Linked DNA regions of Homo sapiens: regions 1 and 2 are each linked to region 3. The links come from fine-mapping of genetic effects on gene expression. A gene starts in region 3. Each other region holds a variant in brackets. All regions are shown on one strand. Distances are from middle to middle. Region 1 holds the start of SMIM5 (small integral membrane protein 5). Region 2 overlaps MYO15B (myosin XVB). Region 3 holds the start of MYO15B (myosin XVB).

Region 1 (8,000 bases), 42 kb before region 3:
TCCTCTGCTGACAGCCAGCTGCTGTCTCTGCCTGGCTTTTTTGTTGTTGGTCGTCCTGGAGATCCAAGTGTCAAATTACCGTCGCGAGGGGGAGCCCGAGGAAGCCCTGCTTGGGAACTTGTCCTCCAACTTCATGTCCCGGTGCCTCACCTCTGCCCTGAGAGCGCTGCTCAGGGACAAGACAAGCTCCCTCTCTCCTCCTCCTTCCTCCTCCTCTCCCTCTCCCCGACTCCCACGCCGTGGGCTGGGCCTGGGTTGGGAGCTGAAGAAAGAAGTCGGCTCTCTGCCTTCCTGGCCAGGAGGACCCTGGGGAGGCTCCACCTGAGCCTGTGGAGGGGAGTCCTGCAGCGCTCTCAGGTCTGGGGCACCCACCCTGCCCTCAGGAAGGCCACCCCTTCTGTCCCTCTGGCCACTCCCTGGCTGGTCCCTCCCTCTGGCCTCTCTCAGGAACAACAGTAAACAGTGGGGAGCTGGTGGCCCTCTCAAGCTGAGCAGGAGGCTTTGCAACCAGTCCCTGGGGAGGCCCTTGTGCCGCTCAGCATCTGAAGGCGTCTTGGGGGAGAACTTGGAATCCTGAGTGACCTGGGAGTGGCCTGCGCGCCCGGCAAGGCGCCTCATGTTCCTTGTGAGGTGAGGGCCTTCTGCTGGGGCTGTGACCGCACTCCTGGCCCAGCTGTCAGGGCAGGGCTCCAGAGTCCAGGGGCCGGGCCCTGTGACATTTGCCTGGTTGTGCCTCCCAGCAGGCTAGGCTGTGTGGAGAGAAACCGACCCCAGCCCCGCTGTCAATGGAGCTCTTTGAGTCCGAGCACAAAACCCCAGTGAGTCAGGGCCTGAGGAGGGCAGGGGGAGGAAGCCAGCCATGTGGTCACACCACTCGGATGCCAGAGCCTCCCAGAGGCTGGACAGGCGGCCGCTGTGCGGGCGCACGGACTCCTGGGGATGAACCATTTGTTGCATTTACTCATTGGAGCAGAGTGGGGGCAGGAGCGCCCTCTGGTGGCCGCCTCGGCTGTCCCAGCCCAGGTCAGGCTTCAGAGCTGCATTCACTCAGCTAAAAGAAAGTCAGCCAGGCCCTGCTTCCTTACCGGGGTGTTGCAATCAGCCTTGCATCCTTGAGCCTGCGCCTTGGGGTCGCAGCCCCTCAAAGGGCTTCTTGCAGCCGCAGCAGTGCTCACACTGGGAGGAGTTCTAGTTAGAGCAGTTAATGCCAGCTATTCTTGTCCCTGGGATGTGGCACCCCAGACAGCCCTGCCTGTGTTCCAGCATCTCCTCTTGGGCTTCCCTACCCTGTGCCACGTTCCTGGTGGCAGGAATGGCTGTTTATAAGGAGCCTGAGAGAGCTATGGCCCCTCTTGCGGCCTCTGCAGCTGCCCCAAGGGTCGACAGCCACCCCCATGCAGAGGGAACAGAGATGCGACAGAGCCTCGTGGGCCAGCCAGAGGCTGCTCCCTGCTCCCAGCATGGGCAGAGGCCGCTCACCCCAGGAGGGCTGCAGCAGGGTTGAGACAGAGGAAGACGAGAGGAGGACTCCAGGCGAGGCTGCGTCTCCCTGGCTAAAGGCCCCACCTGTGACACCCTCACGGGTTGATGATGGGACATATTACTACACAGCCGTGCCTGCCTTAGCAATGCAAATACGTTTTGAGAAATTTAACTTGTCATTGTGCGGTCACAGAGTATACTTAGGGAAATCAAACAGCAATTCCAGGGAAGAGAAGGAAAAAAATATCAAGCGGCACAGCCTCCTACACACCCAGGCCATGCGCTACAGCTTGTTGCTCCTAGACCACAAACCTGTACATCACGTTACTGTCCTGAGTACCGTATGCAGTTGTAACACAGTGGTATTCACATATCTAAGCACACATAAGCATAGAAAAAGTACAGTAGAAATACAGTGTTAGAATCGTAGGGGACCACCATTGGCTGTGCAGTCATTCCATGGGGCATGACTGTACTGTAATGCACTTCAGACATCACCTCAGCCATCTTCGCTCAGTCCGTGAGGGCTGTGCCTTTCTGCACCATCTTACTGACGGGAATGCATGGGCTTTAGGAGGTGAAGTGTGTCACCCAAAAGACACCCTTCATGGCAGAGCCAGCATCTACATCCCATTGCCAGAGGACAGAGGGGAGGAGCAGAGGAGTAACTGGACAGAGTGGGGTTCACATCCTGCTTCCCGGGAGACCCCCATGTGTTACGTGACCTTGGGAAAGTTGGTTCACCTTATCGTCCTCATCTGTGTAGTGGGGAGAGCCAAACGATGCCTGGTGCAGCTTGGATGAGATGAGGGGTGTGGGGCTCCCGGCATGGTGCCGGACGCGGCAGTGCTCGCTCAGCTAGCGATTCAGGCTCGGGTGAACAGACGCTGGCCGACTGGGCTCTCCGCCCCTCACCTCTGCGGTGCTGCCTGCTCCAGGTGCCGCCATGCCGCCATTGCCAAGTACTTCGGGGATGCGCTGCCTGCCTGCGCCAAAGGCTGCGACCACTGCCAGAACCCCACGGCCGTGCGGAGGCGGCTGGAGGCCTTGGAGCGCAGCAGCAGCTGGAGCAAGACCTGCATCGGGCCCTCCCAGGGGAACGGCTTTGACCCCGAGCTGTATGAGGGAGGCCGCAAGGGCTACGGGGACTTCAGCAGGTAAGGGGCCGAGAAGCCAGGGCTCCAACCCGCTGGAATTGCCTGGCATTCCCTTGGCGCCAGGGCCAGACCAGAGGTGGCACGATGCCGCAATCCCCCCTTGAGCTGGTAGGACATCAGGGACATTGCCGTTCTAGCAGCAGCACACATGGGGAGGGCAGAGCCCAGGCCAGGGCCACTCACGCCTGGCCTGTCCCTAGGTATGACGAAGGTTCTGGAGGCAGCGGGGATGAAGGCAGAGATGAGGCCCACAAGCGGGAGTGGAACCTCTTCTATCAGAAGCAGATGCAGCTGCGCAAGGTGAGGGGAGGCACTCAGTGGCCTGTGTGGGGCCCCTGGTGGCCCCCTGCTCGCACCTCTCAGCCCCTTCTCTGGTGCTGGATGGGACTGTCCTGCGGCAGGGCAGGACGCCTCATGGGTCCTTCATGTTGTCCTCCAGGGCAAAGACCCCAAGATAGAAGAATTTGTACCCCCAGGTCAGTACAGAAATGTTCCTGGAGGCTTGTGGGCTCTTCCCGGGGCATGGAGGGAGGATTCTCATCCGGGCTGTGGGGGACCTCAGAGCGCAGAAGGTGGAGCGAAAGGACCAAGGACCACCCCCCCCCCCCACAGATGAGAACTGTCCCCTGAAAGAGGCTTCTAGCAGGAGGATCCCCAGGCTGACTGTGAAGGTAAGAGACGGGCAGCTCCTCAGCCACCCGCCGGGGCCCTCCCCCAGCCGCGAGGCCATGCGACCAGTCTCACTGTCCTGTGCCAGGCACGGGAGCACTGCCTGCGGCTTCTGGAGGAGGCGCTGAGCAGCAACCGCCAGTCAACACGTACCGCTGATGAGTGAGTTCCACGATCACTGGGCTGAGGAGCACTCCAAGCTCTCGTTCCCTTGGAGACTGCAGGACCCTGTCAACCCTGGCCTGTTTGGGCCACCTCTCCCCAGATTGTACCTCTCCTACTCCAGGGGACTGCCCCTACAACCCCACCAGGGCCAGGCATGGCTACAACTTAGGTGCTACCAGCAGCTGCTGAGGGACAGTAAGCCACAGGGTGCTCAGAGAGCCCTAATCAGAATCCCTGTGCCCAAGGCCTACCCCACCAGGCCTGGAGTCCCGCAAGAGCTCAGCAGGGAGAAGCCCAGGCCCACCTGATACCTTGTGCCTGTTACCTTGCACCCACAGAGCTGACCTCCGGGCCAAGGCCGTGGAGCTGGAACATGAGACATTCCGGAACGCCAAGGTGGCCAACCTCTACAAGGCCAGCGTGCTGAAGAAGGTGGGCCTGGTGCAGGCGGACCCAGGGTCGTTGCAGGGGCCCCTCCATACTCTGACGCAGAAGCTGTCTGCCAGCTCTCTGGGCTCAGGCAGCCCAGAACTCACCCTCCCCAGCCCACCCCAGAGACAGTTTATGGGGGTAGAGCTCCATTCTCCACTGGCTGGACATGTTTCTAGCCAACCCTGTGAGGATGGGAGGCCTAAAACTTGCCCAGTGGTCAGTTGCCTGTGGCCACTGGCCACAGAAACCCACTTGTAGTGCCTAGTAGAAAAGGAGGGCTAGGTGGGGCATGTCAGGAGGAGCTGGCGGGTGCCACAGCCTCCCTGCCTATCCCTGCCCAGGTGGCCGATATCCACAGAGCCTCCAAGGATGGGCAGCCCTATGACATGGGAGGCAGTGCCAAGAGCTGCAGTGCCCAAGCTGAGCCCCCGGAGCCCAATGAGTATGACATTCCACCAGCCTCCCATGTGTACTCGGTGAGCTGTGGCCCAGTGGCCTCCAGACCTGTGACCAGGAAAGGCTTCACTTCCCCTCTGCCCTCAGGGGTGCACCTCTTGCCAAGGCCTGGCTCCCCACCAGGGTCCTGCCTGCCTCTTCCCTCCCACACTCCTGAGAGCCCCGTCCCAATGTGAGTTACTGCTCCAGCCAGCGGTGCCCTCAAGGGGGCCTAGTGGGCTGAACCTCCTCTCCTCCTGCTCACATTTACAGCTCAAACCCAAGCGGGTGGGAGCTGGTTTCCCCAAAGGCTCCTGCCCGTTCCAGACGGCCACGGAACTGATGGAGACAACTCGGATCAGGGAGCAAGCCCCCCAGCCCGAGCGGGGAGGCGAGCA[C/T]GAGCCCCCGAGCCGGCCCTGTGGCCTCCTGGATGAGGATGGGAGTGAGCCCCTCCCTGGGCCCAGAGGGGAGGTCCCTGGAGGCAGCGCTCACTATGGGGGGCCCTCCCCTGAGAAGAAGGCAAAAAGTTCCTCTGGGGGCAGCTCCCTTGCCAAGGGCCGGGCTAGCAAGAAACAGCAGCTCCTAGCCACAGCGGCCCACAAGGATTCTCAGAGCATCGCCCGCTTCTTCTGCCGAAGGGTGGAAAGCCCAGCTCTGCTGGCATCAGCCCCAGAGGCAGAAGGTGCCTGCCCCTCCTGTGAGGGGGTTCAGGGACCCCCGATGGCCCCAGAGAAGTACACAGGGGAGGAAGATGGAGCCGGGGGACATTCGCCTGCCCCTCCCCAGACTGAGGAGTGCCTCAGGGAGAGGCCAAGGTAAGGGTACAGGTAGTCATAGAATCTTCTGGAACCTACACGGCAGCATCCCCTTTGCTCACTGGGCGTCTGAAGCTCAGAGCTCACCCCTGAGATGGGCTCTCCTAGGCCTCCTGGGATGAGGGAGCCACCAGGACCCAGTGCTGTGATGCCTGCTCTTCCCTCTACCAGCACCTGCCCGCCCAGAGACCAGGGCACCCCTGAAGTCCAGCCCACCCCTGCAAAGGACACATGGAAGGGCAAGCGGCCTCGATCCCAGCAGGTGCCGGCAGGGATGAGTCTGTTGGGGAGGAGAGAAGGGCTGTGGGCGAGGCCAGGAGCTGTTGTGCCCTGCTCAAGGGGTCAGGGAAAATCAGCTTTCTTTCCACACCTGGCAGCAGATGGGCTGGGCTGGAGAGAGGCAGCTGGTGCGGGGACCCAGTCTTCTGGAGGAGGGGAGCAGGCCAGTGGAAGGGAGCTCAGGAGTGACCCTCTGCTGTGGCCCTTCTCAGGAGAACCCAGAGAGCCAGCCTCAGAAGAGGCCACGCCCCTCAGCCAAGCCCTCCGTCGTAGCTGAGGTCAAGGGCAGCGTCTCGGCCAGCGAACAGGGCACCTTGAATCCCACGGCTCAAGACCCCTTCCAGCTCTCCGCTCCTGGCGTCTCCTTGAAGGAGGCTGCAAATGTTGTGGTCAAGTGCCTCACCCCTTTCTACAAGGAGGGCAAGTTTGCTTCCAAGGTAGGGGGAGTGAGTGGGCTCTGCCTTCTCCCATGCCTGGGGTATGTGGGTGTAGTGGGGGTGGGAGGCAGGGAGTTTGAGCCCCAGAACACAGTGGGCCTAGGGCCAGCCCCACGCCCGTCCTCCCTGGGGCCTGCCTTGCCGTTGGGTCATGGCCGTGGGTTGCTCTGGGGGTCAGGGCAGGGTCCTGCTCTCTTTTTTTTTTTTTTTTATCTCTGTCGCCCAGGCTGGAGTGCAGTGGTGCGATTTCAGCTCACTGCAACCTCCGCCTCCCGGGTTCACGCCATTCTCCTGCCTCAGCCTCCCGAGTAGCTGGGACTACAGGCACCCGCCACCACGCCTGGCTAATTTTTGGTATTTTTAGTAGAGTCAGGGTTTCACCGTGTTAGCCAGGATGGTCTCGATCTCCTGACCTCATGATCCGCCCGCCTCGGCCTCCCAAAGTGCTGGGATTACAGGCGTGAGCCACTGCGCCCGGCCACCAAGGGTCCTGCTCTCTGCTTCTCTTCTCCCTCTCCCTTCCAGGAGTTGTTTAAAGGCTTTGCCCGCCACCTCTCACACTTGCTGACTCAGAAGACCTCTCCTGGAAGGAGCGGTGAGCGCTGGCATTGCCAGGGCCAGGAGGCACTTGGGAGGGTGGTCTACAGGGAGGAGGCTAACGCTCACCTCCTCATGCCCCCACCCTGAATCTGTAGTGAAAGAAGAGGCCCAGAACCTCATCAGGCACTTCTTCCATGGCCGGGCCCGGTGCGAGAGCGAAGCTGACTGGCATGGCCTGTGTGGCCCCCAGAGATGACCAACTGCTGGCTGGGCAGGGCCCGCGTCCTCCCCCAGATTCTAGCATGGGTCATCCTGGGCCTCACCTGCTGATGCCAGGGCCATCGTCTTTTCTCAGTCCTTCTCCTTTCCAACCATACTTGGCTTTGGGGATGACCCCAGACACCCCCTGAATCCAGGTCAGAGGTCAGCCCACCTTTCTTTCTGCTTGCAAAGCCTATAGACCCTTCTCAGAGCGGTCCTCATGGCTGGGTTTTCTGGGACACATGTCGAGGACAGAAGGTGGAGGGTGGTGGAGCTGCTGCTGGAAGAAGGGGAAGGAAGAGTGGCCCCTCCCCGAGTTCTAAGTCAGGATGAGGCCCACCTGTCCAAGGTATCGGAACCTACCCAGGGGACCCTCAGATCCTCCACCCACTCCCCCATCCATTACGATGCCAGCTTCCAGCCTTGCCCAGGTCAGAGCTGTGGCAGAGGAGAGGCAGCCAGGCCCTGTTCCTGCTCAGCTCCTGCTCAGGAAGGCCAGGCCTGACAGATGTTTGGGAGAGGAATAAAGTTGTGTTGTTGTGGGGCATGCAGGCGTGCACACAGCCCTTTTCTCCAGGGAGTTTTATTTCCTCAGCAGCTGTTTCTCCCATGCCTGGGCTTGTGCTAATGTGGGGCCTGGGCGGAGCCTGGGGTCGGGTGGGCATCTCCCTCAGACTGGGCAACCTCAGGTGCCCCAGCCGAGTTCCTGCAGCCCGCTTTGGCCCCAGGCCGTCCTGGAGAGGGTCTGGCTGTTTTCTTTGCCTGCTGGTGACGTGATAGCAGCCCCTGCCTCATGGCCTGCATGTGGGCCGGCTGGGCTGTGCTGAGGCAGGTTCTAGAACAGTGATCTGATAGCATCCAAGGCAGACCATGTGGGTGAGACTTGGGCCGGGGGAGGCCTCATCCTCTTCTCTCCCCGGCCTGCACTCCTCTCAGTTGATGCTGGGCCACTCAGTGCAAGAGGCACTGCTGTCTATCAGGAAGACAGTGGTGTATAGCAGCTCCTGGGCCTGCCCAGAGAAAGGCCTGTTACAAGAGGGCTCCCCAGCCAGCCCCTCGCCTCTGCCCCGGCCCACAGCACTCCGGAGCAGTGGGCATCGGCCTGGGCCTGGGCTCCCACTGCACGCCATGCTGGGGCAAGGCCCTCACATCCACCTTCGCAAGGTGGCCAGAGGCCTGGCCACTCACCTGTGGCAGCTCAAACCAGATGGTCTGGGGGTTGTCAGCTGAGCCATAGTTGACTTCCAGGCCAGGGGGCCCCTTCTCCTCCAGAGGGCTTAGCAGGTGGAGCCGCTGCAGGCTCTTCAGGGCAATGCGGCAGTACAGGC
Region 2 (8,000 bases), 31 kb before region 3:
TGGACCCACCATCCGCTCCCCATCCTCATCCTCCGTTCTCCCTGCAGCTCACTAGGCTCAGCCACGCTGGTCCCGGTGCGTGATGGTGCCGAGGCTTCCCCCCACATCTGAACTGTTGCCTGCCCTTCTCTGTCACCCCGTGCTCACTCCTTCCCTCCCTGTAGGAAGGCTTCTGCCACAAAGCCTTCTCCACTGCAGCAGCCCCTTCCCTGCATTCTTACTCTCCAGTGACCTCTCACTCCCAGACACATAAGTTATCTCATTGTAAGCACTGCAGAGACTTAGCCTGTTGGCTTCACAGCCACACCCCCCTGCACGCAATGGGTGCTCAGTAAATACTTTGGAATGATTTGAAGGACAGTGACCAAGAGAAGGGGATCTCCTTCAGGCCCAGACAGGAGGACAGGCACAGGCGCTGGGGGTCGCACAGCCCAGGCTTACCTTCAGCAGTTCATAGAGCAGATCCATCTCATCCTTGCCCCGGGGCTTGGACTGGTCACCCATAAACCGCATCAGGGCTGCAGGCACGATAAGAAACAGGGCACATAGCTGGGGCTGTGCTGGGGCTGGCCCCGGCTCATGCTGTTGCTGTGCAGGGCCTTCACCTGCCATCTGATGCCTCACTCTCAAAATGCATAGATGCCAGCCAGGGCAGCTGGTTGCAGCTCGACTCATGGGGAAACTGAGGCTCCTGGGTATCCAAGGCCCCACACAGCACATAGCATCCTCTGGACCCATGGACTGCCTTCCAACCCCAGACTCCACACAACCCACAACCCTTGAGTGGGAGTAGAAGCGGGTGAGGGCCCTGGGGTCCAGGAACCACCAGTGAGCTTCCCGGAGTTGGCAGACTGGGACAGAGCCAGGCAGAGCTCAAGGAGATAAGGGGACCAGACACCCAGGTTCATGGCACTGCAGACATGGGGACCCAGGATGCCTGTGGCCACTCACCCAGGAAGCTGGCTACAGCCAGCTTGCTCACATCATCACTGAGGCTGAGGAGCGACTCCTGGATGGGAGCCTGTGGCCAAAGAGAGGAGGCCATGGGTCTGGGGGGCCGTGGGGGTCAGAGGGCAGATCTACGGGCCAGACCCCTCCCTGCCTCTCTCCCACCTTGGTGTACTGCACCAGGCTGTCCGTGTCCTTTCCTGCGGCACCTCCATCAGTCTGGCCCAGCCTGTGGGGGGCAGAGGGAGACAGCCCAGCTTGTTTGGCCCTCCTGCCTTCATCCCAGCCAGCCAGGCAGGGAGAGTGCTAAGAGCACAGCCCAGTGGCTCTGAGCAGGGTGCTCTCTCTCAGGAAGACTGAGGACAGACAGGCACAGGGGTTGGCCCAGTGCACTCACAAGGCCTGGGACCTCCGGAAGTAACGCCGGGCGAATTCCTGCATGGTGTAGCTGTGGGAGTCGGGCAGAAAGGCATAGGCCACAGAGGACAGGCTGGTGGCCTCCGAGTCGTCACTGTGTGCCTGGCTCCAAGGGTGGGCAGGGCGCTGGGATCACAAGAAACCTGGTGCCACCTGAGTGTCCAGTGCCCTGTCCCAGGGGTCCTGCCCCAGCCCCATCCCTCCCCAGCCAGACACCAAAGGAGCAAGACCAGAAGCCAGGAAAGTGAAGAGCTGTTTATTAAGCATCTGCTGGGGCAGCCTTGAACTAAGTACCACGTGGGACACAAGAGCAGCATCCAGCCCAGCCCCTGCCTGCAAGGAGTGCACAGTCTTGCTGGAGAGACAAGGCGAGCCATCAGGAGCGGGCAGAGGGGCAGCCACAGGAGACGGACAGCAGGGTGGTCCCACCGCATGGCAGCCTCGGGAGTGGTCAAACCCCTTTCCTTCCTCAGTCTCAGGCAGGCCTTGCCTCTGCTTGTCCCTCTCCCATCTTCCTCACCTCTGAGGCCCTGTCCCACCGAGCCAGCCCTGGTTCCCCGTTGGACAGCTGACCCTTGTGCCAGCCACTCCTCTGCTCCTTGGAGAAGGAAAAGTCGGGAGCGGCAGCCGGCTGCACTATGTCGGCAGGAAAGAGTCCGGAACGGCCCCCGGCAGAGCCAAACTGCCAGCCTGGAAGGCACCCAGGGATGTGGCTCACCCACTGGACCCTCTGCCCCCGGGCAGCCTCTGCCAAGTGGATGCCCTCCCTGTGTGAGCCCCTGCCGGCCTCTGGCGATACCTGGCTCCAGGGTGGCCACCGGCAGCAGCTTGATGAGGTCCCCACGGTGGAAGCTGAGGAGGCTGCAGTTGTCAGTGATGTAGCTGCGCAGGGCGATGACATAGCCGGAGTCCTGTGGGCAAGCAGGCGAGGGCCTGGAGCAGCAAGTCTGCCTGTGCCTCCCTGTCCTGCCTGCCCACCTGCTCCCCCTGCTGGCCTGCCCCTCCACCTAGCACCCCAGACTTCCAGGGATTTGGCCCAAACTCCCAGCCCCTGCCCCCACAGGGAAGACGGACAGGGAGATGCAGCATCGGTGAGGGCTGTCTGCCCGGCCTCTCAACCCGTGCCCCACACTTACCTTCTTAAGCTCATTCAGGAATAGCTCAACCAGCGCCTCGATGGCCCTTGCCCGGGCTGTGTGCAGCACCAGCTGCTCGCTCTTCAGTGACAGCTCCAGGGTGGAGCCGCCCCGGCACTCCACACCCAGCACCTCCGCAAAGCTGCGCAGGGATCGGGCATGAACTGAGGTCACCTTGCCACCTGCCCCCACCTCTAGCCCAGGGTCGTGGGCTAGCGCACCTGTATGAGCAGAGAATCTTCAGCTGGTCGGGGCGGAGGCCGGGGCCTTGGGTCACCTTGAGCAGTCGCAGCCCACGGTGGGACACGGCTAACAGCTGCACGTCGCTGCCACTCTCGCCCTACAGGAAGGTGGTGGGTCTCGGGCAGTCTCCTGGGTCCTGCTACTGCCCAAGATGCCCTGGAGCTGCCCAGGGCCAGTGGCTGGGCTTTGTCCTTCCCCTGGCGTCTGCTCCCCGGCTCTCCTGCTTGTGGTCTGTGCCCATGCACCCCAGGATCCAGGCTGGGGGCCTGGCATCCCTACTCCCTACCCCAGCGCCACTGACCGAGACAGGAAAGAAGCGGGAGAAGTAATTGGCCCAGTTGTCCCGAGCGGCCACCACGATGCGCTTCTTGACGCTGTCTTCGGTGGTGGTGAGAGAATCCAGGTCCACCTCCAAGCCTCCTGTGGGCAGGAAGGACCCAGGCTGCCCTCTGCTCACACAGAGGGGGCTCTAGAGTTTGCTCCCATGCTGCTCCCTCCTTCAGGGCAGGCGCGGCCCCCAGCACTCAAGCTCCCAACTCCATGGTCCCTGGACCCATACCCAGCAGGTCTTTCATTTTCCGCCGCTCATTCTGGGAAATCCGGATACAGGACTCGGAGAAGGTGTCCCGTAGGATCTGGGGGCAGAGCGAGGTGGTCACCACCAGGTCCTGAGACAGAGCCCACCCCCAGAGCAGCCATCCACATGCATGAAGGAAAACCTGAGGAGGCCGATGGAGGGCGCCCTGGCCCCCATGGCCTGTGTGCTCAGCAGAGGGCCTAGGTGGGGCAGGGAGGGATGGAGGGCTTGGGCCACCTCCATTCACACGTCTCACCTGTCCCCTCCCCTGCAACTGCCAGCCCTCCCTTTTCACTCACTGCCCAGAGACCCCGTGGTAACTGCCCTTGGATCAGCCCAGATACAAGATTGTTCGGGGCAGGGGGCAGGTGCTACTGCAGAATTAGGGGGAACAGAGGCTCACTCCTGGGAGCGTTCAGAGGTGGCAAAGTGACAACCATTTATTAAGTACCTACTGTGTGCTAGAGCCTGTGTTGTGCACTGTACGCACTTTGCTTTTAAACTTTATCTATAAAACTAGATGAATAATGGTCCCTACTTCTTGTTGTTGTTGAGACACAGTCTCGCTCTGTCACCCAGGCGGGAGTGCAGTGGCACAATCTCGGCTCACTACAACCTCTGCCTCCCGGGTTCAAGCAATTCTCCTGCCTCAGCCTCCCAAGTAGCTGGGGTTACAGGTG[C/T]GTGCCACCACGCCTGATTTTTGTATTTTTAATAGACATGGAGTTTCACCATGTTGGCCAGACTGGTCTCGAACTCCTGACCTCATGATCCACCTGCCTTGGCCTCCCAAAGTGCTGGGATTACAGGCATGAGCCACCGCACCTGGCCATGGTCCCTACTTCTCAGGAATGTTGTGAAGGTTCAATGAAGGCAGGTCTGGGCACACAGAAGTGCCCCCCAGTGCTGGCTGCCAACATGCCCTACGTGGTGTTAACCTGGCCCAGCCATTAGACAAAGGGCACGAAGGATGCTGTCTCTGCAGATGTCTCAGGCTGGCAGGTGGGCCAGCTCTCACCTGCTCACAGAGGAGCCTCAGGTAGTAGGGATGGCTGAAGTTCTCCCGTGGGTAGAACACCTGGAGGAGGGCACAGAAGGGCAAAGATCGGTGGGTCTGGTGCCTCTTCCCAGCAAGCCTCTGCCCTCCCAGGCCTGGAAAATCAGCCTTGAGATGGTGGGCTGTGGGGAGGGGATGCTGGGGTCCCAGGCTGGGATGCACAAAGCCTGCCGCCTCCCTGCCAGCCCAAAGAGGCCAGGCCAAGGCCCCACCCTCATGCCCACCTCCTTGCGTAGGAACAACTTCCAGGGCGTGCCGGTGTAGGAGAAGCACACGCTGCCAGAGGGCGCGAGTAGCTGGGTGGAGACCCCCTGGTCCTCCACGGGCTGTGTCAAGCCTGGCAGAGAGGAGGGGGTGAGGAGCCTCAGTGAGGGGCTGCAGAGCCAGAGTGATGGGGGCACGGGAGGGAAGACCTTCATCCCCACGAGCCTTCCAAGGGCCCGGCTCTCCCAACCTCCAGCTGCCTTACTCCTTCCATGGCACCATCTCCTGCCTCCATTTTGGGCCCTAAACTTTCCCTGGCGTCCGTGAGGCTCGTGGGTCTTCTATGACCATGTCAGCCAGGGCCACTAACTTCCTCACAGAGCTGTCGGGTATGTGTCAGGGACAACACCCTGTGTGTGACAGCCTCTCGATGACAGCCCCAAAGATGCCCAGGCCCTGCCCTGGGTGGGAACGCGGAAGCTGGGACTCCCCAGCTACGTATGGCTCCAAAGTCCAGAAGCCCGAACAGCTGGCCTCAGCCACGCAGAAATGCCTTCAGCCCTGGGCACCGAGAGTCTGTGCGAACCCTGCCTCTGCCCCAGTGAAGCCCACGGCGCAGGAGAAATGTGGTTCCTTACAACGACGCTCTGCTGAAAGGGTCCCTGGGTCCTCGGGCAGAGGCAGTGGTGGCGCTGGTGGAGGTGGGGGTGTGTGGGCAATAGGCAGCTTCTGGCCAAACAGGTCCAGAAGGGGCCCCTGCTTTTCCTTGATGGAGCTAGAGGGCCCAAGCTGTAGCGGGGCCTTGGGTCGAGGAGCCACAGCTGGCGGGGGGCCCTTTCCTGGGCTGGGGGACAGCATCTGGGGGGATACGGAGAAAGTACACGGGCTGAGTCACAGCACAAGGCCAAGTTCGCCCCAGAGAGCCTTGAGCTCCCCAGTGCAGCAGCACACACTCTGGGGGAGACAGGCTGGGGTGCTCACCGGCGGGGACGAGTGGGCACCGTTGATACCCAGCTTGGCCAGAGCCTCGTCCTTGGGGTCGATTTTCCTCAGGAAAGCTTTGGGAGGCCTCGTGGGAGAAGCAAGAGGTCACTAAGTTCATAGGGTGATTCCCCGAGGAGCGGGACAGCCCTGGCCACCTCCCCGTGGGGGCCCACCTGGATGGCTGCACGGGCACAGGCACGGGGCCCGGGCGGCTCTGGTACATGCGGATGATGTTGCCAATTTCCCTGCTGGGTTGTGGCCGCTTGGGCTTGGAGTCTGAGCTGCGCACCACAGTCCCCCTGCCTTGGGCTGGCCCTTGGCCATGGCCCTTGGCCGCTGTCTCCTTGGCTGGCTCAGCCTCAGCCTCTTTTGGAGCTTTGGCCCCACCTTGCTTCAATGGCTTCTTCACGATGGGGGGAGGAGGAGGGGACGGCACTGACCAGGAAACAGGAAAGACTGTTAACCGCGTGCAGAGCCACCGGAGCCCCAGGCCCTGCCCAGCTCCCCACAACCTGCTCTTGTTTCCACTTCTTGCTCCTCCTGCTCCTCCTCCTCCTCCTCCTCCTCCTCCTCCTCCTGCGCTTCCCCCTGGGGGATGTGGACCTTGGCCGGGGGCTTCATCGTCCTCACTGTGATCTGTGGCTGCCCTGCAAGTGTCCAGATGGCCTTCAAAGTTACCCATACTGGCCCAGCTGGGCTCCTGGATGGGCCGCACCAACTCCGGGGAGCAGAGCACACCCCACCCTCCCTGGCCCGGGCCAGGGGCACTGGCCATGTTTCTGCACGGTCCTGCCACCCCAAGTGCCCTCACCCATCCTCTGGAAATAGTTCCGTTTCTGCTGGAAGCTCTTGGGCTGATAGGGCCTGTCTTCAGCCTCCTCGGAGGTCTCCTGGCAGAAGCAGAAATGAGTGGCAGCTCAGCCAGCCTGGGTGCCACACTCGCCACACCCCTCGGGTCCCCAGTCCTGGGCCAGCAGCCTCTTCCCTGTGTCTGCCTACTCACCCTGCCCATGTCCCCTGCCCCTGCAGTCCCCACCCTCACATCCCTTCCTGAGAATATGGTCACCTCCTCACCCTCAGGCAGCCACCCTCTGATCCCAGGTCACGCTGTGGCTTCTCCGGGGGTGTGGGGGGCTTCCTGGGCTTGGAGGTGACGGCTGAGGGTGAGGCCTGGGACGCAGCCTCGGAGGCCCGAGCCTGCTGCTGCCGCTGCTGCATCTGCTGCTCCAGGGACAGGGACATGGCCTGGGCTGTCATCTGCTGGGCCTGAAGCAGGAGGAGCAGCCAGTTCAGACCCTCATCCCCGAGCCACAGACCTCTCCTCCACCAGGTGGCCCCAGGGCCCTGCCAGCGCTCACCAGGATTAGCGCCTGCTGCTGGATAAAGTTCTGCTGCTGGACGGCCAGCTGCCCTGCATCCAGGCTGGGAAGCGGTGGCTGCGGCGGCACCACCATGGCTGTGAGGGCGGCAGGCGGCCAGAGTGGTGGGCACCATGGCCAGCCTTGAAGCTCGCTGCCCACTGTGCACTCGGGACTCCTAGCAGGACCCTCCCTCCTCCAGTCCCAGAGCTGGTGGCTGCTCTCCTGAGAAGGGACTCTGGTGCCCCCAGCCCAGACTTACCTGGCATGGCAGGGACTGTGCCCATTGCTGGCATCATGGGCATGGGTGCAGGGACCATGCCTGGCTGGTATGCAGGCATCTGAATCATTCCTGGGTACACTGAGGGAACACGCCCTCCCTGTCAGTCCCTGCCTGGGCCCACATGCCACCTCCCTCCAGCCCCAGGCACAGAGAAGAGCATCGGGCACCGGGGTGCTGGCCAGGGCATCGATCGCCACTGCCAGAGGGGTCCCAGGCCATGCCTGCCATGCTGCCGGGCCCGGAGGCCCTGGGTGAGGAATCAGCCCCTCACTCACCCATGGGGTAGCCCTGCTGTGTGGGCCCAATGGCGCCCCCTCCCTTCATGCGGCTGCTCAGAGCCCAGCTTTGTTCCAGATCCTAAAGGGACAATGGTCACAGGTCAGAGTGAGAGCCCTGAGAAAAATGGAAGGGGCAGCAGAGGCCCCGGGGGGTTGGGGCAGGGGCATTTGGGGGCTGTGCCCGACTCACGCTGAGGCCGGAGGATATCACTGGCTGGAAGATCTGGTCCAGGAAGCCGTCCAGGCTCCCTGACCTCTGGACCTCCCCTGTGGGGCAGGGAGAGGGTTGGAGCCATGGCCCGGGGCGTGGGGCTTCCCATGCTCTGCCAACCTCCATGTGCCCACTCCAGCCTTACCTGTGTGGTCCCTGCTGGGCAGCGTTGGGGCTGGACCTGGAGGGGGTCCTGGGGGCAGTGAGGGGGCCTGAATGCCAGGGGCAAGGGGAATGGCCTCGGCTCTGCAGGAAACGGGATCCAGCTAAGGGGGTGGCCAAGGCTGAGGGTCACCCAGGCTGGGGC
Region 3 (9,906 bases):
GCCAGCACAGCCCAGACGGCATTCAACTCCTCTGGGCACAAGCCGAGCCCCTGCAGTGCCTTCAGCAGCCCCTCAAAGTCCTGGGCATCCTCCTTGCCTTGCAGCCTGCAGGCCTGGCCCTGCAGAGCACAGCAGGGGTGAGGGAGCGGGGCCTGCCACCCCATAGCCTCCCTCTACTCCGGCTACTCCTCAGACCTCCGGGCCGAGATCCTCCTCTGGGCAGGCCTCCCCGCCGCACCACAAGGGCTCCCCCGACCTGGTTGAGGTAGTAGTAAGTCTCCGGTCCCTGCAGGGAGAGCCGCTCCCGCTCTATGGAGTCCAGCCCTGCCAGCAGCTTGTAAAAAACATGGAAGCTCCGCTCAGCCTGGGCCTTGGGGACAGGACTGGCTTAGGGGCTCAGTGCCCTAGGGGCTTAGAGGCCACACCCCGACAGTGACACCCTCTGCCCTTCCTACTCTGGGAACTGGGCAGGGGTGGATAGAAGGGCTGCCTTTACCTGAAACACCACCCTGGAGGTCTCAAGTAGATAATGAGACACAGAGGCTCCCACGATGACCCCTCTGTGGGCACAGAAGATGGGTGTGAGTGCCCAGGATGCAGAACACCCAGGGGCCCCGTGCAGAAGAAGCCCTACCAGGGTCTGGACCCCAGGGAAGCAGCCCAAGGACCCAGGAAGGGTAAGTGATTGTAGGTGCCCCCTGCAACCCTGCCACTCACTGCTGTAGGTAGAGGCAGAAGACCTGGCCGAAGCGGCTGGCATTGGCATTGAGGATGGTCTTGGCATGGCCAAAGCTGCTGAGTATAGGCAGCATATCCTCCACCTGTACAGGGAGGGGTGTTCAAGCATCCCTGGGCAGCAGTAGCCCCCACCAGCAGGCATCCCAGCTAGGGGCAGGTCCAGGGAGGCGTCAGTCCCATCAGAAAGGGCAGTGCCTGCAGCTGACCCCAGGAGACGCCAGAGGCCTGGAGACCACCCCTCTCCTGGCTGAAAGGAGAAAGATAGTCCCTTGGACATGGTCAGCTGTCCCCTGGAGGAAGACAGACGGCCAGCTCAACCCATGAGGTACCTCCAGCCTGGCCCTCACCTGACACTCTCGGTTCCCCGTCTGATCCTGCTCCAGGCTGCTTAGGAACTGCATGATCTTTTTGGCGGCTTCCGTCTTCCCTGAGCCACTGTGCCCACTGCAGTGGGAGGAGCTAAGGATGTGTTGGTTGGTAGGGTCTCCAGGGAGGGGCACATAGGACCACCCCAGTGAACCCAGGAAGTGGGATGTGCCACCCAGAAGTGACAGCTAGCCTGGAGAGACCCCCATAAATGTGGAAAGATAGTCCCAGGGCATGGAGAGACCCGACAGAAAAGAAAAAGTCCCCAAGATGCCACATTCCAGGGGCTCATGTGATGATTTCAGCCAGGAGCTCGGCCCTGAGGAGTCCAGAACTGTAGCCCAGCAGTGGAGCATACCAGTGGCTTCCAGTGAAGACCTCAGGCCCCGCCCCATCAACCCTCAGTGTGGCCCATGGGTTCAGCCACCCAGGAAGGCCACCACTCACCACAGGAGGATGCATGGGTCCTGCCCAGTATTCTGAGCCAGGTCATAGGCTGATGCCACGATGGCAAAGATGTGTCTGAGGGAGATGAGAAGGTTGCCAGACATGGGGACCTGGGACCCTCCGAGGTGTAGCAGAGGTGCTCACAGGCCCCGGGACCTCAGTCAAGGGGACATGCAGGGACTGGGCTGCCTGGGAGGTGAGCAGAGGGTCAGTGGGGCAGAGTCACATACGGAGTGGTGCTGAGGGCCTTCCTGGGGTGGTAGCTTGCCTGGACCTCAGGTGAAAAAAGAGGCAAGGACCGGTGGGGGTTCAGAACAAGCAAGACAGGCCCCCCAAAGGTCTGGGGAGGAAAACAAGCTCTCATCAGAGTGTGGAGGGAGCAGGGGGAATGCAAACAGAGCCCAGCCCCTCAGTCCCACTCTGCAGGGCTCCAGAGAGGGTTCACCGCCTAGCCCGGGGAGGAAGAGGAAGGAGAATCTCCAGGGGTGCCAGGGAGCCCTCTGTCCCCAGAGAAAAGGGGATCCCCGCCCACTGTCCGTCCCCGTGGCTCCCCATACATAGATACGGCCCAGGTGAAATCTCTTCTTGAGGCACAGCAGCACAGAGCTGTCACACACCAGCCTGTAGGGACAACAGGGTGGAGGCATGACAAGTTGTGGCTGCAGGAGGTTGTGGGTTAGTTCTGCCACCCACTGCAGGGACCCTGGCAAGTCATTCAACTTCCCAGAGCCTGATCCATAAAATGGGGGCTGAGCTGTCAAGTAATGCGCAGGCTACAAGGAGGGCTGGCTCTGACCCAGAAGGAAGCTTTGTACTAATTAGAAAGGCGGTCCTGGGGACGTAGCACCTGTTGCCCCTTACCTGCCCCTTCCTGCCAGGAGGGTTCAAGCCCATCCTTCTAAGGATTCAATAAGGGTCTACACGCAATTCATAAAGATGAGGGCAGGGTGGATATGAGGAGCTGTGAGCCGGGGATGGCAGCTTTGGCACCGCGCCCGCTAACCGCAACCGCGCCAGGTCCTCCATGTCTTCCAGGCCGTCTCCGAGGCTCCTGCCCTTGGCACCGGGGAAGGGTGGCGCCTCCAGGCCCGGCCGGAGGCTCAGCTCCAGGTCCCTCTCCAGCACCGCCTCGTCCTCATCCTCGGGTTCCCACAGCTCCCTCAGGGACCCACGGAGGCCCGGGTCTCCCTCCTGCTGCAGGCGGGTCTCCAAGGAGAGTCGGGGTAGCAGCACGGCGGCGCCAAGCCTAGGACCCTCGTGGGGGCCTGAGCCCTGCGCCCAGCGCACCGGGGGCTCGTCATTGAGGGTCTCCAACTCCGCCTCACTGCTGGAGCCGCTCTCGTCGAGGGAAGGCCCGTCGGGTGCAGTCGGGGCAAGGAGGGAGCCGCGACGAAGCCCGGACACCCCTTCCCCACTCGTCCTGCACCCCTCACTGTGCCCCCCCACCCCTGCACGAGGCCAACCTCGGCCTTCCCCCGTGGGGGCATCTGCGGACGCTTCTTCAGAGCTGCGGCTGCTCGACGCCCGCCCTGCCCTGTGGATCCTGGGGAACACGACCGCGAACTTGGGATCTGGAGTCTCGTCCTCCTGATCAAAAGGGTCGCCGGGGACTGGGCTTGTCGGGACCTGCGGGGAGCGGCCACCAGGGGAAGCCCTCGGCATACCCCCCAGCCCTGCTAAGCCAGCCAGGCGCAACGCTAGACGGTGCCGCAGCCCGGGCTCACGGCCCCACCCCTCGTACCCTCTCTGGTGGTCCCGGCCCTCGTCACCTCTCTCGTGACCCCGCCCCTCGTCCGCTTTCCCGCAGCCCCGCCCCTCGTACCCTCGCTCGTGGCCCCGCCCTTCGTCCGCTTTCCCGCGGCCCCGACCCTCGTCCCCTCGCTCGTGGCCCCGCCCTTCATCCGCTTTCCCGCGGCCCCGCCCCTTGCTTCCTCTCCCATGACCCCGCCCCTCGTCCGGTTTCCGGCGGCCCCACCCCTCGCTCGCCCGTGGCCCGGTACCCTGCCCCTCGCCCTCTGGCGGCCGCCGCCGCAGCCGCAGCCGCCGCCGCAGCCAGCGCAGGAGGCCCAGGGCTCGCGCTACACTCAGGAGCCGCTCCTTGAGGCCAGCGCGGCGGGGGCCCACGGCCTGGGAAGCGGCGCCTGGCGGGGGCCTCGCGAGGAGCCTGCGGACCACCAGGAGGGCCGCCAGCGGGGCTGGGTCCTCCGGCCCCGCTCCTGCTGCGGCTCCCGCTTCGCCCTCGCCTGCCGCCGCTGGCACCTGCCCCACCGCCTTTCCGACCTGGTGGCGCGGAGCCCGGGCCGTCGAGGCCTGCATTGTTTCTGGCTCGGCGCCCCGCTGCGCCCGGTTGTCGCTCGCGTCCTTGGCCGGCCCAGTGTCCCGAGGAGCCCGCGAGCTGTCCTCGAAGGTCCTGGAGGCCATAGCTGCCCGAGAGCCCCGTCCAGGTCCGGTCCCCAGCGGACTCGAGTCGGAGTCCCCGCCGGAATGCTCGCTGGCTCCCAGGGGCCCCGTCCCCGACGACCCTTCCCGGCCCCGGGTATCTGCGTGGGGCCAGTCGCTGTCCAGGCCGTCGCTGCTTGGCTCCAGCGCTGACTCCGGCCCGGTTTTTGTCCCTTCCGAGCCCATGTCCGTAGGCTCCGGCGTGGGCCGCAGCTCCCGGGCTGTGCCGCGCTGGCTGCCGCTCTCCTGGGCCTCGCGGGTTTCGCTGTCCGGACAGGAGCTGCCTCCGTCCCCACCCGACGTGTCCCCATTGAGGCTCCTGGGCGTCCGGCGGCCCCGCCGAGCCGAGGGCCCCTTATCTTTCCGCTTCCTCCTACGGCGGCCGCCCAGCTCTTCTCCTCCGGAGAGGCTTCCCTCCTCCAGGCGCCCCCCGCGGCCGCCCCTGGGCCCGCGTCCCTGACGCTGCGCGTTGCTTTGCCTCTCCTGGGCTTTCGGGGACAGCCCAGCCCCTGGGCGTCTGCAGCCGCCGTTCCCCTCTGCAGTGGGCTTCCTGCGGCCACCAGGGGTTCCCTGGCCCCCGGCGGTGGCAGGCTCGGCCGCCGGTTTCGCCCTGTCCGCCTGCCCGCGGTCGGAACGGCGTTCCCGGCTGGGCGCGCCATCCGCGCTGGCCGACCCCGACTCCTGCTCCCCTGAGGCCGGCCTCCCGGGCCTCTCCAGGCGCTGGGGCGCTTTGCGCTGGTTCCTGCCCATGGCTGGCCCAAAGGAGACGGGCTTCCCGACGCCCAGGTCCTTTCCCCTCCCCGGGGATTTGGCCTCCCGCGGTGACCTTCTGTGCAGTGCACCACCCGGCTCTGCTCTCGCAGGGGCTACAGGCTCTACTCCCCGAGGTGCCCGCCTTACAGGACCATCAATAATGCAGAAGGCGGCGGGTCCTGACCCCCTCGGCCAACAATGGAATAGAGGCGCCCAGGAAACAGGAGACGCTACAGCTGCGGACAGGGCAACAGTGCCGCCGGGAGGCGCTGCCAGCCAGGCCAGCCTCGCACCGCGCCAGACTGAGGGGGTCCATGCTCCACTCCCACCTCAGTGCTTGCCCAGCAAGGAAGGGCCCAGAGAACCTGTCTGGACTTCTTCCTTCTGAGGGTTCCAAGGGACTGGGGCCAGGCCCACCCTGGCACACGGCAGCACTCCATGAGTCGCTAGGGTTTTTGTTCTTTTCAATTGTGGAATAAATACAATTTACCGAAAAGTACATAAAACATAAATGTACATCTTGAACTGGTGTAAAACATGCCTGTCTACCTCCTTGGAGTTGTGGAACAGAACCACACCCCATACATTCCTGATTGCCCCAATGTGTGTGTTTTTAAAATATCTATTTTTAAAACAGGTAATACATTCACATAATTCAAACATCCAAACATTACAAGATAAAAGTCTCCCATTCCTGACCCTCAGCCTATGTACTCAGTGTTCCCCTGAGGTTACCCATTTCTGTATTTCCTTGCAAAATTTTCCAGGTTGGCCGGGCGCGGTGGCTCACGCCTGTAATCCCAGCACTCTGGGAGGCCAAGGAGGGCGGATCACGAGGTCAGGAGATGGAGACCATCCTGGCTAACATGGTGAAACCCCCGTCTCTACTAAAAAATACGATAAATTAGCCGGTCGTGGTGGGGGGCGCCTGTAGTCCCAGCTACTCGGGAGGCTGAGGCAAGAGAATGGCATGAACCCAGGAGGCAGGAGAGAATGGCATGAACCCAGGAGGCAGAGCTTGCAGTGAGCTGAGATCACACCACTGCACTCCAGCCTGGGTGACAGCATTTTGTTTGTCTCAAAAACAAAGAAACAACAACAAAAACTTTCCATGCAGAGAAAAGCAAATATTATATTTTTCCCCTTTAGCACAAGTGGTAGCTTATGTAGCTCCGGGGTCTCCACTTTGCCTTTTTCACTTAACAATGTAATCTGGTGATTTCATAATAATACCATAAAAAGCCAGCCTGCCTTCCTCCCTTCTCTCCTCCCTCTCTTCCTTGCAAATAAATGCACCATGGTTGAACCAATTCCTTATTGATGGGTTTCTACATCCAAAGTGGATCCTGGCCAAGTGAGGTGGCTCATGCCTGTAATCCCAGCATTTTGGGAGGCCGAAGTGGGTGGATCACCTGATGTCAGGAGTTCGAGATCTGCCTGGCCAACATGGTGAAACCCCATCTCTACTAAAAATACAAAAATTACCTAGGTGTGGTGGCACATGCCTGTAACCCCAGCTACTCGGGAGGCTGAGGCAAGAGAATCGCTTGAACCCAGGAGGCGGAGATTGCAGTGAGCTGAGATTGTTCCACCCTACTCCAGCCTAGGTGACAGAGCAAGACTCACTCTCTTAAAAAAAAAAAAAAAAAAAAAAAGGTGGATCCTTCCTTCCTCTCATCTTTTGCTTAAGTTACAGCCAATACTGGAATACAATTTCACCAGCATCTGCATAGAATCAACTATAAGTAGAATCGCTGCACCATAGGGCACTTGCATTTGTAATTTTGAGATTTCCAAATTTTTCTCCACAAAGGTTGTGCCGATTTATATTGCCACCAATAATGGGAGACCACCATTCTTTTCCAACACTCTGAAACATGACAAAATTTCAGTGCCACTTTGAGGAAATAAGATCTAGTGTTCAATAGATCAGTGGGATGACTATAGATAACATTAATTGATTGTACATTTCCAAATAGCTAGAAGAGAATTGTTGGGAGAAAAGCTGAGTGTTGGGAGAGAAGCTCAGGCAGGACTTGCATGTCTGCTAGACTTGCTGGCTCCTTGCTTCTAGCACTCCCATTATCTCAAGCAGCTGTATGTTTCTCGTTCACTTGATACACTATTTCCTTTCAACCTCCACATCCTCACCACCTCTTTGAGCACCAATAAATAGCCTGGGCTCCCAGTGCCCAGGGGCCTTCACAGCCTCCACACTCGCGATGGTCCCCTGGTCCCACTTTCTCTCTCAAACTGTCTTTTTCTCATTCCTTTGACTCTGCCGGACTTCATCACCCCCACTACCTGGTGTTGGATCTGATTACCACAACAGAGAATGATTCAAATGCTCCTAGTATTAGAAAAAGAAAAGGTGACAGATACCCCAATTACCCTGATTTGATTATATCAAATTATCACATGTACCCCCAAAATAAGTACATCTAATATGTATCAAAAAAATTTTTTTTAAATAAAATAAAAAAAAAAACTCGGTGCCTCTTTAAGTTCATTTATCTGTGAAAATAAGCAGCTCTCCTGCTCTTAGAGCCACTTTACTTCCTTTTCTGAGACCACTCTCTTCTCATCCTTCCCCATCTCTCTATTTATTGGGTGTGAGAAGGTCTGTTTCTTTTTTGAGACGGAGTCTCGCTCTGTTGCCCAGGCTGGAGTGCAGTGGCGCGATCTCGGCTCACTGCAACCTCTGCCTTCTGGATTCAAGGGATCCTCCCACCTCAGCCTGTAGCTGGGATTACAGGCGTGCACCACCATGCCCTACTAGTTTTGTATGTTTAGTAGAGATGGGGTTTCACCATGTTGCCCAGGCTGGTCTTGAACGCCTGGCCTCAAGTGATCGGCCGCCCTTGGCCTCCCAAAGTGGTGGGATTACAGGTGTGAGCCACCTCACCCGGTCAGGAGTTTCTTGATTATTAGACTGTTAAACCCAGGCAGGATTTGTGAGGCTACTTGAGGGCCCTGGGGCAAGGCAGCTGTGCTGGGGCAGGCTCAGAGGACCCACGATGGAGTCAGATGGGTCGTCCAGGTGGGGCCTGTGACGTGCCCCACAGGGACTCCCATGCCCCCACTGACCGGTTTGCTGTGGCCTTTCCTCACCAGGAGCAGCACCCAGCACAGAGCAGGGGAGGTGACATTCCAGACTGCAGCACTTTCCTTCGGAATGCCCTTGTCAGCCCACGCCTGCCTTGTGCCCATCTCTCTGCACACCTCCTAGAACCAGCCTTAGACATGGTTGCAGCTGTTGCCAGCACCCACATTGCCCGAGAGGGCTGTTCACAGCCCAGAGGCCTGGTTTGAGCAACAAGTTGACAGTGATTTGGCCTTTGCAGCCTGCATTCTCAAGGAGGCAGCCTTCTGGAGAGGGAGGCAGCTGTTAGAAGGACTACGAGCTCACAGGTAACCGCAGCCTGTAGATGTCTGCAAGCTGTACTCCCCTATCGCCAGTTGTGCTGGGGCAAAGGATGATTATAGTCTGAGCACTCGTTTCTCCTGCAAGAAGCAGAACGTGGGTGAGGTATTCACCCGGTGGATTAGTACACAGCATTGAGAACTGTCTACAGCTGTCAGCAACAATGTGGATAATCTTGCAAGCATAATGGTGAGTGAAGGAAGCCAGGCATGAAAGAGCATCCACTGCGTTCTATTTATATAAAGTACAAAAACAGGCAAAGTGATCTACAGAGTGGTCCCTCCAGGGTCAGTAGTGACTCAAAGGAGACACAAGGGAAGCTCTGAGATATGGGTGATGCGTTTGTTCAGTTTGTGGGGATTTGCTGAGTCGTTCTCCTATGACTTGTGCACTGTTGGTTTGTATCTTTTTTTTTTTTTTTGAGACGGAGTCTTGCTCTGTTGCCTAGGCTGGAGTGCAGTGGTGCGATCTCGGCTCACTGCAACCTCCACCTCCTGGGTTCAAGTGATTCTCCTACCTCAGCCTCCTGAGCAGCTGGGACTACAGGTGCACACCACCACTCCCGGCTAATTTTTGCATTTTTAGTAGAGACGGAGTTTCACCATATAGGCCAGGCTGGTCTCAAACTCCTGACCTCGTGATCCACCCACCTCGGCCTCCCAAAGTGCTGGGACTACAGGCATGAGCTACCGCACCCAGCCTGGTTTGTATCTTATAGCACAGTGGGCTGGGCATGGTGGCTCACAAATGTAATCTCAGCACTTTGAGAGGCTGAGGATTGCTTGATCCCGGAGTTCCAGACCATCCAGAGCAACACAGCAAGACCCCATCTCTACAAAAAATTTTCAAAAATTAGCTGGAGGCCAGGTGCAGTGGCTCATGTCTGTAATCCCAGCTCTTGGGAGACTGAGGTGGGCAGATCACTTGAGGTCAGGAGTTCGAGACCAGCCTGGCCAACATGGTGAAACCGTCTCTACTAAAAATACAAAAATTAGCTGGGTGTGGTGGCACATGCCTGTAATCTCAGCTAGTCAGGAGGCTGAGGCAGGAGAATCGCTTAAACCTGGGAGGCAGAGGTTGCAGTGAGCAGAGATTGCGCCACTGCACTCCAGCCTGAGTGACAGAATGAGACTCCGTCTCAAAAAAAAAAAAAAAATATTAGCTGAGCATGGTGGCACACGCCTGTAGTCCCAACTACTTGGGAGGCTGAGGTGGGAGTATTGCTTAAGTCTGGGAGATGGAGGCTGCAGAGAGCAGTGATTGTGCTACTGCACTCCAGCCTGGGCAACAGAGCAAGACCCTGTCTCAAAAACCAAAACCAAAACCACAAAAAAAATTAAAACAGCATAGAGAAAGAGCTCAGTTTTTTTTTTTTTTTTTAGACGGAGTCTTATTCTGTCACTCAGCTACTCCCGAGTAGCTGGGACTACAAGCGCATGCCACCGTGCCCAGCTAATTTTTTGTATCTTTAGTAGAGATGGGGTTTCACCACGTTAGCCAGGATGGTCTTGCCCTCCTGACCTCATGATCCGCCCGTCTCGGCCTCCCAAAGTGCTGGGATTACAGGTATGAGCCCCAATACCCGGCCAGAGAGCTCAGTTTTGCCCTGGACAAACAATAACGATAATAGTAGCAGATAGCTAGCACCTCAGGGCTTCTTATGCTCAAGGCATGCCATAAGCCCTTTTTTTTTTTTTCTGAGACGGAATCTCGCTCTGTCGCACAGGCCGGAGTCCAGT

Evidence for each region.
Region 1: its variant is fine-mapped to the expression of MYO15B in whole blood (TOPMed, PIP above 0.99).
Region 2: its variant is fine-mapped to the expression of MYO15B in whole blood (INTERVAL, PIP 0.97).

Annotation. Positions count from the first base shown.
Region 1 is chr17:75,626,089-75,634,088 of GRCh38, reverse strand. It overlaps MYO15B (myosin XVB), which reads right to left. Exons shown (of 64, transcript NM_001395058.1): 63 at 7,861-8,000; 64 at 7,240-7,682. The coding sequence ends at 7,605. RECQL5 (RecQ like helicase 5) reads left to right here. Exons shown (of 20, transcript NM_004259.7): 9 at 2,421-2,639; 10 at 2,840-2,939; 11 at 3,079-3,115; 12 at 3,252-3,310; 13 at 3,397-3,470; 14 at 3,812-3,905; 15 at 4,247-4,381; 16 at 4,614-5,155; 17 at 5,327-5,417; 18 at 5,647-5,871; 19 at 6,397-6,466; 20 at 6,567-7,235. The coding sequence ends at 6,667. SMIM5 (small integral membrane protein 5) reads right to left here and starts at 655. Exons shown (of 3, transcript NM_001162995.3): 1 at 1-655. RefSeq lists enhancers at 223-902, 903-1,583. The variant C/T (reference allele first, on the strand shown) is at 4,739.
Region 2 is chr17:75,614,522-75,622,521 of GRCh38, reverse strand. MYO15B (myosin XVB) reads right to left here. Exons shown (of 64, transcript NM_001395058.1): 31 at 7,839-7,939; 32 at 7,673-7,749; 33 at 7,480-7,561; 34 at 7,184-7,282; 35 at 6,922-7,019; 36 at 6,638-6,829; 37 at 6,375-6,453; 38 at 6,076-6,210; 39 at 5,737-5,998; 40 at 5,561-5,648; 41 at 5,218-5,437; 42 at 4,600-4,712; 43 at 4,337-4,396; 44 at 3,304-3,379; 9 more. Among named protein-coding and RNA genes, the nearest start is that of SMIM5, 15 kb to the left of the region's middle. The variant C/T (reference allele first, on the strand shown) is at 4,002.
Region 3 is chr17:75,582,892-75,592,797 of GRCh38, reverse strand. It overlaps MYO15B (myosin XVB), which reads right to left and starts at 4,998. Exons shown (of 64, transcript NM_001395058.1): 1 at 2,555-4,998; 2 at 2,109-2,172; 3 at 1,782-1,891; 4 at 1,552-1,626; 5 at 1,086-1,197; 6 at 718-821; 7 at 497-560; 8 at 257-370; 9 at 1-119. The coding sequence starts at 4,740. RefSeq lists silencers at 3,127-3,726, 3,767-3,896 and enhancers at 3,517-4,348, 4,777-4,846, 4,349-5,182.